2 separate regions of the Homo sapiens genome follow, and region 1 is linked to region 2. Evidence: fine-mapped expression QTL. Tissue or cell type: subcutaneous fat. Region 2 holds a variant in brackets; the other region holds the start of a gene. All regions are shown on one strand. Distances are from middle to middle. Region 1 holds the start of LINC01337 (long intergenic non-protein coding RNA 1337). Region 2 overlaps MSH3 (mutS homolog 3).

The links. PIP is the estimated chance that this variant, and not a neighbour inherited with it, causes the effect.
Region 1: it holds the start of LINC01337, and the variant in region 2 is fine-mapped to the expression of LINC01337 in subcutaneous fat (FUSION, PIP 0.92).

What each region holds. Positions count from the first base shown.
Region 1 is chr5:80,621,127-80,624,164 of GRCh38, forward strand. LINC01337 (long intergenic non-protein coding RNA 1337) reads right to left here and starts at 1,398. Exons shown (of 2, transcript NR_125754.1): 1 at 1,282-1,398.
Region 2 is chr5:80,721,984-80,724,483 of GRCh38, forward strand. All of the region lies in intron 8 of MSH3 (mutS homolog 3), which reads left to right. Among named protein-coding and RNA genes, the nearest start is that of DHFR, 68 kb to the left of the region's middle. The variant A/AAAATAAAT (reference allele first, on the strand shown) is at 1,111.

The DNA.
Region 1 (3,038 bases), 100 kb before region 2:
GAGCATTAAGGAGGCAAGAAAGAAAGTGATATAATCAGAGATGCTGTTCAGAAAGATTGTCTTGGGCCAGGCACGGTGGCTTACGCCTATAATCCCAGCACTTTGGGAGCCCGACGCAGGTGGATCACTTGAGGTCAAGTGTTCGAGACCAGTCTGGCCAACATCATGAAACCCCATCTCTACTAAAAATGCAAAAAATTACCCAGGCATGGTGGCAGGCACCTGTAATCCCAGCTACTCGGAAGGCTGAGGCAGGAGAATTGCTTGAACCCAGGAGGTGGAGGTTGCAGTGAGCCAAGATCACGCCATTGCACTCCAGCCTAGGCGACAGAGTGAGACTCCATTTCAAAAAAAAAAAATAAATAAATAAAGATTGTCTTTGTGGCCATGTTTATGAGAGACTGTTGGAGACGGAGATCAGAGATTGAGAAACTATCAGTTTAGTTTTCTCCAGCCGTCTAAGTAAGAGACAAAAAGACATGAACTAGATGCGGTTATGAAAGAGAACAGATTGAAAGGCACAGCAAAGGTGGAGTACTTGGTGGAGGTGGGGCCTGGATAAGGTTTGGCTATGTCTCCACCCAAATCTCATCTCAAATTGTAATTTGAATTGTAATCCCCACCTGTCGAGGGAGGGACCTGGTGGGAGGTGATTGGATTGTGGAGGTGGTTTCCTCCATGCTGTTCTCATGATAGGGAGCAAGTTCTCACAAGATCTGGTGGTTTTATAAGGGGCTCTTCCCCTTTTGCTCTCTTCTCTCTTGCCTGTGCCATGTAAGACATGCCTGCTTCCTCTTCTGCCATGATTATAAGTTTCCTGAAGCCTTCCAAACCATGCAGAACTGTAAGTCAGTTAAACCTCTTTTCTGGCCGGGCACGGTGGCTCACGCCTGTAATCCCAGCACTTTGGGAGGCCGAGGCAGGTGGATCATGAGGTCAGGAAATCGAGACCATCCTGGCTAACATGGTGAAACCCCGTCTCTACTAAAAATACAAAAAAAATTAGCCTGGCATGGTGGCGGGCACCTGTAGTCCCAGCTACTTGGGAGGCTGAGGCAGGAGAATGGCGTGAACCTGGGAGGCAGAGCTTGCAGTGAGCTGAGATCGCGCCACTGCGCTCCAGGCTGGGTGACAGAGCAACACTCCAACTCAAAACAAACAAACAAAAAAACAAACAAAAACAAAAAAAACACTATTTTCTTTATAAGTTACCAAGTCTCAGGCAGTTGTTCATAGCAGTGTGAAAACGGACTAATATAGGCCTAATAACAACTCACCCACCCTTGCTAAGGGCTTGTCCTGGGTTTTAGAATCTGGAGATGAAGTTTCTTCATGGCTTTCCCTCTGCCTGGAATATGTATTTGTTCTTGTCCTGACCCTTAGTCATTGCTTTTCTAGCCTCTTCAAGGCCAGTCTTGAGTCCCACCTTAAAATCAAGAGAAGAATGGATAAACTGGCACATCTGTACAATGGAATATTACCGTTAGAATAAGAGAAAATGGGGACCAGGACTGTAAATCTCTTCAGCAGACAAAGCCAGTTAAGCCTTGGACACAAACTTGACCTTGATAAGCTAAACTTAACTTGGACTATTTTTTTTTTTTGTAAATACCTGCATTAAAGCAAAATGAAGTTTAAGTTCAATCAGTAGCCACCAACTGACTTATATAACAAGGGACTTGGCGGGGGGGAGACCAAATAAGGCAACTACACAGTCATAACCAAGCCATTATTTTCTTTGCCTTGCTTCCAAGTTACAAAAGCCTTTTCCTTGCATTCTCTTGGTAGAGCCCTGAACCACTCTTGGTTTGGAGCTGCCCAATTTGTGAATTGCTGTTTGCTCAAACCCTTTAAAACATTTAATAGGACTTGACTTATCTTTTAACACTACGTAGTAATAAAAAGGAACAAACCACTGATACATGGAACAACTTGGGTGAAACTCAAATCATGCTGCAATAAGCCAGATCAAAAGAGTGCATCCTATATGATTCTATTCATATGAAGTTCAGAAACAGGAAAAACTAATCTATAATGAGAAAAAAAAAATAGTGGTTACCTCTGGGGGTTGGGGTTGAGGACTGACTGGAAAGGGGTAAGAGGGAGTTTTCTAGGGTGATAAGAGATTGGGTTATAGAAAGGTATATGCCATTATCAAAACCTGTAGGATGTTATCCTTAAGATCTGCATTTCATTATGTAAATTTTACCAAAAAAGTGAACTACAGTTAATAGGCAAGCTGAAGAATGTAGGCATGAAGAATAGTGATATCTGTAACTTTAAAATGCGTCAAAATATAGGATGGATAGATGGATGGCTCCATATGTGATAAAGCAGAGATAGCAGTGTTAATGATAGGATCTAGGTGATAGGTAAATGGGTGCTTACTGTACAATTCTGTCAACCTTTCCGTGTGCTTGAATTAGTCATTATAAAATGTTGAGGGGTATGGCATGGTGGGGGAGGGGGAGGAATCCCTAGTCTAAGTTTTGCCAATTCACATATCAAAAGTAAAGACAACTGGCAGTGAGAAGTCAACCTGTGGACAGTGAATCAGGTCAACTAGAAGCCTCCTAACTCCTTGTCTCTGGCCTTTTGGAGGGGAACATGACTAGGCACTGAAAAAGAGGCAGTCTAATTCAGGATCCCTTTCCCTAATTACTTTAGCTGGTAGGTGCTGAAAAAAATCTCTCTTCCCCCCAGGTTTTCCTGACCTCCAGCACCATGAAGTCTTTTCCTCCTTGCAGACAAAACTCTATCCCTTTAGGCTTTGTCTTGTGTTTGTCTTTGTTAGGGCTCCTAGGCAAAGTAGAGACCATCTAATTTTTTCTTCTGATTAGATTTCACATTTGATTATCTACTACAAAGCTATTTGAAATATCACACACCAATGTGTTTTGTCTTTTTTTTTTTTTTTAAGAAAAAGTTTCAACAGAAATGTCACTGTATTTACAGAGTAACTTCCTGGTACACATGAGGTCAGCTGGGGAACAGAAAGGACAGGAGCAGATGATTAGAAACGGTCATTAAAGTAATTC
Region 2 (2,500 bases):
TGATTGTTGTGTGGCATATGCCCATGAGAATTTGTTTAACTGTTTTTGTGAAGAAAAAAAATATATAAACTATAGATTTTCTGTCATAAATCCTTCTTTCTGAATTTTAACCTAATTGTAAAGCAAAATAGGTAATAAAGTTTCACTATTGTTTATTTATTACAAGGCATTGTAATTGAACTTTTAAATCAACTCATACGATCTCCTTGCTCAGGAAGGAAAATCATAAAAATAGAAAAAAGCTTGCTTTATTTTGGTGCTGGGGATGGTTTCAAGTCTTTTTTCAGTTTTATGTAGAGACCAAGAAAGTGTTCTGCATAGGGAGCCAAAGAAAAAAATATTGAGAAACTTTCTAAAGTATCTTAACTCAGTTGTTTATAGTATAGCTTTACTTTACAGATAACTTTTGATGTTCTTAGATCATTAGATATACCTACATCAATATACATAAGATAAGCTTCCAAAGGAAATACTCTTTGCTTTGGGAATACTCTTTCCTATCATCTACTAATTTTCATTATAGCAGCAGTCTTTTATTTGTATAGGTCAGTGGTTCTTTAACTTTAATGTGCAGTAGAGTCCCCTGATGCTGGGCCGGGCCCCACCCAACACCTGTTCCTGTTTCAGATAAAGACCAGAGAGAGGTATGTGTACGTATCTAAGAGTGAGCACAACCAAAGCTGTATAAAACCTTCATGGAGGAAATTACAGAACATTACTGTTGGATATAATAGACATGAATAGAAGAATATACCAGCTTTGATAATGTGATACCTCTATTTAAGATGTTATTTCTCTCTAAATTAATTCATTACATATCAAATTAAAATACCAATAAGGGCTGGGCGCAATGGCTCACGCCCATAATCCCAGCACTTTGGGAGGCCGAGGTGGGCAGATCGCTTGAGTCCAGGAGTTTGACACCAGCCTGGGCAACATGGCGAAACCCTGTATCTACTAAAAATACAAAAAAATTAGCTGGGCGTGGTAATGCCTATCTGTAGTCCTAGCTACTTGGGGCTGATGAAGGAGGATTGCTTCAGCCTGGGAGGTCGATGATGCTGCAATGAGCCCTGGTCCAGCCTAGGCGACGGAGTGAAACTCTGTCTA[A/AAAATAAAT]AAATAAATAAATAAATAAATAAATAAATAAATAAATAAAGTAATCCCAGTAAGTTTCTTGTGAAGACCGAAGGTAAGTGAACCTAAAATTCACAAAGAAAATCAAAGGGCCAGGAGTAGCCAAGACAATCTTGAAGAGCAAGGTAGGGACCTTGCCACTTTAGATATAGATGCCAAGCCCTAGAAATTAAGAGACTGTGGTCGTGATACAGAGATAGACAAAAAGACCAGTGGAACAGCATGGAGAATCCAAAAACATATATAGAAATGCAATATGCAGTGAAAGTAACATTATAAATCATCAGGGACGTATGGAATGCTAATTGCTGCTTTGATCATTAATTATATGGAAAATGAAATTGTATTTATAACTTCACACTATCCACAAAGATAAATTCTGGTGAATAAATTCAGAAAGCAGATCTTAAATTTATTAGAAAATATAAGAAATAATAAAATACTTAGCTGCTGTTAAAATGTAAAAAGCACATGTATCTTCATGTATAAATCTTAGAAATAGTGTAACATTGAGGATAAAATCAATTTGTATGGTTATGATAAAGTACCACTCATACAAAATGAAAAGCATGAAATGATACAGTTTTTTATAAAACATGAAAACATGCATGGTAATATACATCACATTCAAGATAATGTTTGCTTCTTTTATTAATTTTTTTTTTTAATTTGAGACGATGTTTCACTCTTGCTCAGGCTGGAGTGCAGTGGTGTGATCACAGCTCATTGCAGCCTTGACTCCCTGGGCTCAAGTGATCCTCCCACCTCAGCCTTCCAAGTAGCTGGGACTACAGGCATGTGCTACCGTGCCTGGCTAATTTTTGTATTTTTTGTAGAGAGAGCCATGTTGCCCAGGCTGGTCTTAAACTCCTGAGCTCAGGCAGTCCTCCTGCCTCGGCCTCCCAAAGTGCTGGGATTACAGGCATTAAGCCACCGTGCCCGGCCAGCGTTTCCTTCTGGAAATCGTAGAGGGATGTGATTAGTGAGGGATATGTGCAGGCTACAACTGTAACTAAAGTTTTATATTTTTAAATAAAAATGTTTTAAAGCAACATGTGACAAAACATTAACACCAAATGAATATCAAACAACAAAGAAATAGTTGAAGAAATTGTGGCATCTATATACTATGAAATATTTTTCAGCCATTAAAAAGAAGGAGTTGTAGCTAGGTCATTTTTATGGAGGGACTTTCAAGAATTATTAAGTGAAGAGAACAAGACACAGAAATATGTTTATAAAATCATCTCAGTTTTATAATGTAGTAATATATAATGAGCATATATTATATATGCTTGTGTATGACCAAAATATGAACATGAAAAAATATGGAAAGATTCATTCTAGGCTGTTAACATGAGAGATAACAGTC